Linked DNA regions of Homo sapiens: region 2 is linked to region 1. The links come from fine-mapping of genetic effects on gene expression. A gene starts in region 1. The other region holds a variant in brackets. All regions are shown on one strand. Distances are from middle to middle.

Evidence for each region. PIP is the estimated chance that this variant, and not a neighbour inherited with it, causes the effect. A credible set is the group of variants that fine-mapping cannot tell apart.
Region 2: its variant is the best candidate, but not a certain one, in a credible set for the expression of SHISAL1 in esophagus mucosa (GTEx, PIP 0.55).

Annotation. Positions count from the first base shown.
Region 1 is chr22:44,310,868-44,316,232 of GRCh38, reverse strand. SHISAL1 (shisa like 1) reads left to right here and starts at 3,282. Exons shown (of 5, transcript NM_001099294.2): 1 at 3,282-3,482. LOC101927499 (a long non-coding RNA gene) reads right to left here and starts at 3,222. Exons shown (of 2, transcript XR_244444.3): 1 at 3,090-3,222; 2 at 1,234-1,812.
Region 2 is chr22:44,286,976-44,292,340 of GRCh38, reverse strand. All of the region lies in intron 3 of SHISAL1 (shisa like 1), which reads left to right. Among named protein-coding and RNA genes, the nearest start is that of SHISAL1, 23 kb to the left of the region's middle. RefSeq lists an enhancer at 1,514-2,457. The variant A/G (reference allele first, on the strand shown) is at 2,465.

The DNA of each region.
Region 1 (5,365 bases):
CACCACATCCTGCATCCTTGACCCAGGTCCCTCTCCCCAGGGTGCACCACGTCCCAACTGGGTTCCCTGGCTTGGTCTGCTCCAAATCTGGATTCCACGTGGGGGCCTGCTATTTGTAACCTTGGGCAAGTCACAGAATGACATGTCCTGTTGCAGGAGCATGATGTGTGGGAGACCAGGTCTGTCACGGGCACTGCAGAGAGCACTTGGCCCCTGGGGGGTTATCATTGCCCTGCTCCACATCGATATGGGCGGTTTACACTGTGCAATGCCTCTCCCCTCCCTGCCCCGGACTGTGAATCCTTTGAGGGCCAGGATGGAGACCCATCCTGCCATTGCGGAATCACCTGAGGCCGGGGAACTGCTGCCTGTGAGCCTATGAAGGAGGCAGCAACTCCCCAGCAGTGGCTCAGGCAGGGCCCTGCGTGTTCTTCATCTCAGTCATCCTCCCCTTGACCTGGAGGGGCCAGGATGGAGGCATGGCACCATCCACAAAGGAAGAAACCAAGCCTCCTCGAGGCAGGTGACCCGCCAGGCAGGTAACAACAGCGTAAGAAGCAGCATTGGGATTCTGTGGCCCAGGTGACATGGGGCCACCAGCTCAGTTCCAAACATGGAAATATAGGAGGATGTTATATGGCCTGGTGTCCTCAGTTTATAGATGGGGAAACTGAGGCACAGAGAGTTTATAACTGGGAGGGTCTCAAAGGGACGAGGTGTATGTGGGCTCAGTAGGAGGAGGCTGGGAATTCACACCGATTCCCTACTGGAATTGGACAGTTCCGGCACCACACCCAGCAGCCTGGGACTGTGAACCGGAAAAAAACGCTCCTTTCTCAGGGACCCCCAGCCAGGCCAAAGCAGCTTCTGCAGTCCCCACCCAGGCCCCTGTGTGGGTCTCAGCTGCCCAGAGGGGTGGGCCTGTGTGCAATGGATGGGGGCTGGGGGGTACTGTAATCATTATTTTTCTTTACATATATTTTGAACCTTGATTTTCTATTCTATTTTCCAGACTCCAGGCCATGGAGTCAGGCCCATGTCTCTGCCTGCTTCCTGGTATTCGCCCTCGGCAGTCCTTGCCAAGACTTCTTTATTTACTTGTTTGTTTGTTAATAATATAAGAAACATCCTTGACCCATCCCTCAGCCTGAGAGCAGGAACGTCAGCCTGTGCGCTCCCAAGCAGGGCCCACTTCACCCCACGTCCCGCTGTATGCCTTGCTATAGCCAGATGCACTCTCAAAAAGAACATTTTATTTACAGTTCTTTTTAGCCTTCTAGAAAGCGTACTGTGCTGAACTTCATCTTTGGAGACTTTACTTTCTCTCTAGCCTCATAGCGCTGAGATGCCCCGTAATGTTCTGTGCGGCTGCAGTGCATTTGGGTAGCTGAAGAGTGTTCCGGTGTTTGGCCATAACACCATGCATTTTCCTATTCATCCACTGGGCCGTCTCCAGGGCTGTCTCCAGGTTTTTCCATAGCGCCGCTGTGAGCTTTCTAGAGCCTGGTCCCCTCGGCCGAGAGGGGATGTTGGTGCTTTTCCTCCCCCACAGTTGCTGAGGCAAAGACCCACTGTGCAAGAGGATGTGGTCACAGTGGCCTCCCTGAGGTGGGGTCACCTTCCCTCCAGGCAGCCCTCACCCCGGTCTGCCAGGCAGGTTGGTCTTTGTTGTGCTTCCAACCTCTGTCAAAGGTGAACTTTTAAAATTCCTGCCTCGTAGGGTGGATCGCAAGGAGTAAATGTCATTGGCGGACCCATACTTTTCTATGTCATAGGTGTTCCAGATCTGGTGCACAGGAGGTCTGCTTTGAACTATAACAAAATCCACAGGGCAGTCCAGGCTCAGAGAGACAGAGAAACATGCCCAGGATCACACAGCTGAGAAGCGGCAAGGGACTTGAACCCGTGTTCAAACCCCAAGCTCAGAGCCCTTTTGTTTCTCTGCTGCTATGCTGAGCCCCAGACAAGAGGCAGGAGGAACTTTGTGTGCCTTGTTCCCTCTGCCAGGAACACTCCCCCACCCCCACCCCCGCCCCACCGCCCGACTCATCCTTCAGGTGTCCACACCAGACCCCCTGGTCTGAGTCCCCAGCCAGGCGACCCAGGACGAGTTACTGAAACTCTGTACCTCAGTTTCCGCATCTGTAAATTGGGGATAATCACAGCCCCTCCTAATCATGAAGATTAAATAAATACCACCCCCACTCCCGGCCCCTACCCCGTCAGGCTGCATCAGGCACTCTGGGCGCCCATAGCCCCCTGGTTTCCCATCGTGGCACCCATCGCTCTGGGCTGCCATTGTTGGGACCGTGGTTAGATGAGGGGCACCCAGACCAGTCTGAACTCGCTCTCTGTCCACCGAAAGGAATGGAAAAAGGAGGTTTATTTCTGGCCTGGCTCAGGATGGGCAGGCTTCCAGGGATGGGTGGGAGGCAGAGGAGGGCTGGCCTCCTTTATGGCTGCGTTTAAATGCCACCCAGAAGCCAGCCAAGGGCGCCGCCAAGGTACCACGATGCACGAAGGCCCAGGGGTGGGAGACGGCCATGGGCTGGGGGGGTGCCTGGCACCCAGGAAGTGTGGCTGCAGAGGCCAGCCAGGCCCCTGGGCTGTGTCCAGACAGTCATGGAAGCCACTGATGTGTTTCGAACAGTGGCAGGTGTGGGCATCCCCCGCCCTGTTCCTGCCCCATCCCCACCCCATTCCTACTGGCAGGGAGGACCCTCTGCTGCTGGGTGGGGACAGGCCAGGGGTAGGGGGGCAACAGCAGGAAGATCAGCCCAGCTTGGAGTCAGGCAGGTGCCACACACCCTCTGTGGGCTCTCGGGTCCCAGCTACCCTTCCTCCCCGGGCTGGTGTGGGGACCGTTTGTTTTACCCACACCCCTCCCCGGGCCATGCTGGCCAGAGGGGCTTGTGCAGTGGTGCCACTGACCTCCATTGCCCAACAGAGACTGAGGGCCACGGGAGGGAACCCACATGTATTGTGCCAAGCATCTGCTGAGGTGCGGACCTGGAGCCCGGTGCCCTGGGTCTAAGCCCCTGCTGCTTCTAGCTGTGGGATCTCACAGGGAGTGTCTCTAGTTTGCTCACCTGTAAAATGGGGCTCTTGCTGGTGCTCTGAGGATGCACAAGGCTGTAAGACCAGAGGCTGGAGTGCGTGGGGACTGCGGGAGCAGCCGCTGCCATCCTGGGCCTGGGAGGTGGCGGCCCTAGGCCCAGGCGGGAGCTGGACTCCTGCAGGGCTGACTCAGCGCCCTAGCCCCACTCCCCGCCCTGAGGAGCACACTGAATTCTTGTCAGCACACAGAGGCCAGCCTGCGCTGGAAAACACTCTTTTGCCTATACAAGGCTCGACCAAGTTGCTCTCCTTTTATTGGGGTTTAAGGTTGGTGGCAACCAGGAGCCGGGGAAGAGGCCAGCAGCTGCAGGGAGACCGCAGCCAGCGGAGGGGGCTTCTGATCCCTCAGTCACAGGGCTCGGCAGGTAAGGAGCAGCCTGTGGAGGTTTCCAGGTCCTCACTGTGCAGGGGCACCTCTGTTCCTTCACGCTGACCCTGGGGTCCCTGCCCTGGCTAAGCACTGGGTCTAAGGGAGAAGCCAGGCAAGGCTGCTAAGTGACTCCTAGTCACAGAAGAATGGGAGGGGCCGGGGTGACGGCTATGCCAGTGGGGCAAGATGGGGAGCAGGCTCTGATCTAGAGGGGTGGGAGCCCTGTGGGGGTGCACAGATGCTGGTGCTACTACCTACCTGCTGTGTGACCTTGAGCAAGTTGCTGACCGTCTCTGTGCCTCAGTGTCCTTGTGTCAAGAGCCTTGCATAGAGAGGGGTTGGAGAGAAGGCCAAAGGCTCGGGGGAGGGTCCGGCATGGCCTAGGGAGTGCTCTCAGGATGCCCTAGTCATGGCCTGGAGGGCATTTGGTTGGCTTCACGGGGGTGAGGTGGGTCTGTTCGACCCACTTCAGAGTCTGCAGTCCCAGTCCAGCATCACACCGGTACGAAATAAGTGAATAGATGAATGAATGAATGAATGAACGAACAAATGAATGCATTGGCCCCTCCGAATACGCCTTCAAGGCAGGTTTGTTGTCCCCATTTACAGATTGGGAAACTGAGGCTTAGGGCTTTGGCTTCTCTTCACTCCAGTGAGGAAGGGGTTCTGGGGACCAGGGAGGCTGAGGGAGCTGAAGAGAAACCCAGAGCCACCCCCACCCCGAGGCGAGCGCCATGCCTGTCTTTCCTCTTCCTGCCCTGACACTTTAAGTGATTCATTCTTCATGTGATATTTTTGTGTTTCTCCAGTGGGAAAAAAATGCCTCTGGGATTTCCAGGGGTTGTTTTATCTCCATGGTGCAACCAAATAACTCAGGAGGACAGAGAGAAACAAAGGGTTGTTGAGCTGAAGAAGGCCCATGATTGTCTCGGCCAAGCTCTCCCTTTAATAGGGGAGGAAACTGAGTCTGGCCTGAGCCCCTCGCCCTGTGACCCAGTGTGGCCCCCTGGAGGACAGTGGGGCATCTAGGGCCTTCAGCAGGGTTGGGGTTTCCAGCTAAGCCCCTTTCAGCTGTGTGTTCTCGCTCAAGTCCCCCTTTCCCCAGGCCTCAGCTTCCTCATCTGTAAAATGGGATCACAGTGGTGCCTACTTCCAACATTCGAGACAGTAGCACATGCAGAGAACTTTGATGGGTGCAGAACTGGCCCAGGCCAGGGGCTCAAAAGGGGGAACCATTGAAACAGCTGAGTTTGTAACTTGGACTCAGAGCCCAGCTGGCTGGGGCATGGTGGATTCAGCAGGGAAAGGTGTCAGTGAGGGACAAGAGCCTTATTAGGGATACACTGGAATGGTTATCCACTGAGGGAGGGATCTGGGGAGATAGGAGAGGTTTCCACGTTGGAGGTCACCTGCGTGCCTTCCCAATTCCAGCACCCAGGCCAGCACCCTTCGTGGCAGTGTGCTTCTCCTCGTGGCCCTGACCCTGAGAGCAGCCCCATGGAGCAAGTGGTATGCCCGCCTGGTAGGGAGACAGTGAGGGCCCAGGGGGTGTGAGCCGGCCCACCTCAGCTCCCCTGGACTTAGGGGGACCTGTCCCACTGGAGCCCTGGAGTTGGGTTTCTAGGCTAAAATAAGGGACTTCCACCCAGGGCTGATGGCCCAAGGTCACTCCCGGTGGTGGCCGTAAAAGTTGAGGCCATGTCTCAGTTGAAGGAGATCTCCTGCCTGGATCTCTGCTGTTCCCATCTGGAAGTTTGCTCTTTGCAATAAAACAAACCAGGCCAACGAGTGCTAATGGAGTTCCTACTCTATGGCCGGCAGACATTTATTCAGCACCTACTGTGTGCAAAGCATGGTGGGGCGATGCAGAGGCACAAA
Region 2 (5,365 bases), 24 kb after region 1:
CTAAAAGGCTGGATGTTCCAGTATCCTAGACAGGTTAGCACTCACCAGCAGCCCGTCTAGATGGACTAGGACAATGTGACTCCCGGAAGGGGCTTTATGCAGATGCAAGAGCTCCTGGTCCTCCCCCATCGCCCTTCCCCCGACCCCCGCCCCGCCACAGCCCTCCCTGCTGGTGAAACAGCCAGGAGGCGGGGCTGGTGACAGGGAAAAGGAGAGCGCTTCTGATGATTTATTTATTTGTATTTTTCTGGAGGAACAGAATGGTTTGTTTTGGTTCTGGCTGCCTGGCAGGAAGGCAGAGTGAGAGGAAGCAGCCTCGCCAAGCCCACTACCACGGCGAGATGCCCGCTTCCAGCCACGTGGGCCATAGAGAGACTGCAGAGAGAGGGGTGGGGCAGGGGCCCTGACGTGGTGAGAAGTGTACTGCCCTCCTTCCCATGCCAGGGCACTGCCAGACACCAGCAATGGCGACTCAGACTCAGGTCCCTGGGCGATCTGTGGAAGCCTCCGTGTGGGGGTCGCGGTGGGCCAGGGCGTGCAGGGGATGTGGTCAGTTCTCTCTGGGGACAGGGAAAGTCTCTCTGGAGGAGGTGGCTGGGAGTGGCATCTCCCACAATGCATGGGCATTCCTTCACCAGGCAGATGGGCTGCAGGGGGTGGGAGGTGGGGAGGGACTCTAGGAGGACAGAACAGTGCACCCAAAGGCCTAGCATGTGCAGGCATGGACGGTGGTCCCTCCCTTGGCCACGCGTGAAACCTCTGACCCCCAAAGCTTTGCCCTTCCCCAGGGGAAGGAAGTGAATGAACACTTATGAGGACTTCCTCCAACACAAGGGGCCTGACTCATGCTGACACCCTCCATCTGTTATCTATGAAGGACCTTCCACTAGCCCCGTTCACTAGGGCTGAGGCTCAGAGAGGGTGAAGCCCTGCCTGCAGCCACACAGCACACAGGGGACACAACAGGGTTTGGGTCAGCCGTATCGGTCATCCTGGGCTTAGTTATGCCAAGGAGAGGAGCACCCTCAGAGGTCCCGGGAGCTTGAGAAGCGAAGGCTTCCTTTTGGCTCATACTCTGGGTCCTTCTTGGGCTCTTTGGTTCTATGTGTAAAGCATTCTGTGACAAGGCCGTAGAAGCAGCCCCTATCCCGGGTAGGATGGCCCTGCTGTAGAAGGAGAAGGCAGTGGTGAAGCCACACACGTCGTGTCTCTAAGCTTCTGCTCAGAAGTGGCCACAGCATTTTTGCTCATGTTTTATTGGCCAAAGCACGTCACTTGTCCAAGCCTGTTACCAGTGGAGTGAGGAGAGACAGAGGGATTGACCCTATTGGGAACACCCTCAGCCAGGCGCAGTGGTATTTTGATAGTAATAGACTCTGCTTCACCAGGTATATCCAGGCCCAAAGCCCACACACCGCCACTGCCCTAGACAACCTCAATCCTGCTGTGTGACCTTGGGCGAGGCACTTTGCCTCTGGGTCTAGACCTATTAAGCACTCTCTCTGTGCCTTAATCACACGAGCCAGCATTCCAGGGGTCTGTCTCTCTCCAGGCCCTCGTGTTATCTCACAGCCTCACACTTACACCATGAAGTAGGAGGTCTAGGTATCCCCATTTCACAGACAAGGAAACTGAAGCTCAGTTTCCCAAAATCACAGAGAGAATTTTGCCAAGCTGGGATTCGGATTCACACAGCCTTGACGTCTTGAGCCCACACCTTAGTCGCCAGAGTCATCCACCTTGTCTCGTGGACCCGAGGCCACTCCTGCCAATGGGCTCCATACTCCCGTTTTTTGTTTTTTTTTTTTTTTGAGACTGAGTTTCCCTCTTGTTGCCCAGGCTGGAGTACAATGGCACAATCACAGCTCACCACAACCTCCGCCTCCCGGGTTAAAGCAATTCCCCTGCCTCAGCCTCTCAAGTAGCTGGGATTACAGGTGCCTGCCACCACGCCCAGCTAATTTTGTGTTTTTAGTAGAGACGGGGTTTCTCCGTATTAGTCAGGCTGGTCTCAAACTCCTGACCTCAGGTGATCCACCCACTTCGGCCTCCCAGAGTGCTGGGATTACAGGTGTGAGCCACTGCACCCAGCAGGCCATACTCCCATTTTTTAGACGAGGTTAGCAGAGGGGCCATCGGCCATCTTCCAGCTGAGCTGATGTTTCGTTCTGGCCTGCTGGCCTCAGGAACTCTCCTCCTCCACCCTCAAATGTGACTGCCTGGTGGGGTGGTGATGGGGACTTCCATCCCCACACTGGCTGCAGCTGCTCTTCCTGCTGACGGATCTGCTCCTGTGCCCCGGGAAGACGTTCAGTGAGATTCCTCCATCAGAGGTTTTGTTTACTGCTTGGGAAACACCAAAAGAATTTGAATCAGTAAATATCCCAAAATACACTGAAAAAATTGCGATCTGCGGCTTTGGCTGCCTTCACATCTTGCTCCATAAAACAGCCTTTGGTTTTTT[A/G]TCTTCTGCCATTTACAAAACACACACCCACACAACAAAGACCCCTGCATCTGGATGGAATTAATTTCCAGGTCACATATTTTTCATTACATTTACAAAAGTTTTTTAAAGACCTGAATCTTCCCAGCTGGCTGACCACAGGGAGGGCCAGCCGTGGCAGGCCAGGGGAGTGGTTTCAGCATAGTGCCCATGGCCTGGGCGTCCCCGCCTGCCACCTCCAGGGTGGTCACCTCACAAGGAAGGGCGAATCAGCAAAGGCAACACCCCCCGGCAGGCAGGCCCCTCCCTTCCCTGACAGGGAGGATGAGCTGGGAGGGCCGGGGGTCATGTCATGTGTCAATTGCAGCAAGCTGGCTGCAGAGGCCAGGAGCCCGGCAGTAAACACACACACACACACACACACACACACATTTACAATGACACACTGATCTGCACGGTGCCCCAAGGAGGGAGGACAGGGACTCGCCCTCAGTTCCTGGTAGAGGGTGGGCCGGGACAAGCAGGCACACCACGCAGGTACAGGGGACCCCTCTTTGGACATCTATCCTAGATTAAACCATGGAATTCCCCCAAGATCAGCTCACTTGAAGTCAGAGAGGGACCTGGGTCCAGCTCCCAGTGCTGCCACTCACCAGCTGTGTGGCCTTTGGCAAGTGACTTTGCCTCTCTGGGTCTCATTTCCTCATGTGTGACATGGGAACACTAGCTCCTCCCTCATGGTGCCATTGCACGGATTCAGAAGCACAGGGCACTGGCGCATAACAATTGCCAGTGTTTTTATTAGCTGCTGGCGCACAAGACATGCAGCCTATAAACTCCAGGGAAGTTAGTATCAAAGCAGCCACTGTCACCAGCCCATTCTCAGCTGTCAGTATGTGTTGGTGTCAGTATTTACAGCCTAAGGCTGAGTGCTGGGCTCATAAAGACAATTTGAACCCCAACCCCGCCTTCAGGGCCCTCCCAATCTCCAGGGGCAGACAGTCCTACAAAACAACAAAGACAACAGTGTGTTCTGGGAAATCCAGTGGCTTTGAGAATGCAGGGTAGGGGTTGGACTGACAAGGAAGGCTTCCTGGAGGAGGCGATATCTGGGCTAAGACACAGTGCCAGGGCCAGCTGGGTGTGCAGGAGGTAGGCAGGGGTTCTGGAGAGAGGTGCAGCATGGACAAAGGCCTCCAGGCAAGAGAGATGTTGGGCTGGAGCAGCATTTCTTTTCTTTTTTGTTTTTCTTTTTTTGAGACGGAGTCTCGCTCTGTCACCCAGGCTGGGGTGCAGTGGCGCAATCTCAGCTTACTGCAAGCTCCACCTCCCGCATTCACGCAATTCTCCTGCCTCAGCCTCCTGAGTAGCTGGGATTACAGGCGCCCGCCACCACACCCAGCAACTTTTTTTTTTTTAATTTTTAGTAGAGACGGGGTTTCACCGTGTTAGCCAGGATGGTCTCGATCTCCTGACCTTGTGATCCACCGGCCTCGGCCTCCCAAAGTGCTGGGATTACAGGCATGAGCCACCGCGCCTGGCCCCTGGAGCAGCTTTTCTACCTGAGAACCCGGGTGGCCGCAGCCAAGGCAGTGTGCTATAGTGGTGAGGAGCGCAACTCTAGAGCTCAGCTGCTGAGTTCAAATTCTGCTTCTGCCCCTTAATGGCTGTGAGCTCTTAGGCAAGTCTCTTAATTCCACCGAGCCTCAGTTTTCCATCCGTAAAGCAGGGATGACAATGATGAAAAAGCTGTTTCCTCCCGTGGTTGCGTGAGCATTAAATGGGCTAACGTGGGAAGCAGGTAGGGGAACGAGCGTCCACTGCCACTTCTGGTACTATTATTTCTTGGCCCAGTGGTTCGAGGCCCAGCCTGTGGCCCAGCCACACCCCCAGCTGGCATCCTGGACCCCTTCTGCGGACAGCATCTGCACACAGCTGCCCTGCCTCCCCTTTCCCCGTCTCCTCCCTCAGCCCCCGTGGCTGCTGCCATGGGAACCACCGAAGAAAAACCTGGCACTTAGAGCAATTCCGTGGGGGCTGCAGCAGGGAGGGTGCTGGGGAAAGCAGGAGGGCCTGGGAACTGGAGCCAGGCCTGACTCCTCGGTCTACATGGACATCTACCCCGGGGACACCTGCCCCAGCATACTGGATGGGGCTGCAGGCCTCTTTTTCCTGGAATTCCTGGAAGGAATTCCATATCCAGATGCCTCCAGGAAAAGCTAGCCTCTCTTTAACAGTCTCTTTTTAACATAAGGCCGCTGGGGCCTGGCTGTCAGTCATTTACACCTTAGCATGAGCGAGCCCATCAGTCTGATGCAGGCTTCATGGTGGTGGGGGCTGGGAGGTGGGGGCAAGGAGGCAGCAAGGACGCACAGTGACCGGGAGCTGTGGGATTACAGCTACAAAGCCTAAGCACTGGCCTACAGCTGCTCATGGGATGTGCTCAGGACATGCAGAGACCTCCCAGCCAGGAGCTCCCAGGCACCCGAGCAGCATCTTCAGGCCAAGAACTTGGCCAAGTGAGAGGAGGGAAGGCATTCTAGGCAGAGAGCGAAAGCGAGCTTCCCCGGCCCTGGGCTCAGCCCTGGTCAGGGCCAGAGGAGCCCAAGGGAAGCAGCCCCCATCTTCCTACAGAGGCCACTGCTGGCGCCAGGGCTGACCTAAGCCTGGGAAGATCTGGAGCCTGGAAGTCGAGACTGGGAGAGGCCTCATGCTCATCTCCTCCAGGCCCAGAGACAGGCAAGGGTTTTCCCAGGCCACACAGCAAACCAGGCAGAGGAAGAATTAGAACCAGGTCTCCGGGTTCCGGGCTGGCCCCTTCCCCCCAGCCTCAAACAGGGTCTTAAAGGATCTGCTGCCCGCGAGACCTCCGTCTGGGCGAGAGCGAGGTGAGTCTCTCCCTGGGGATGTGCAGCGGTGGCG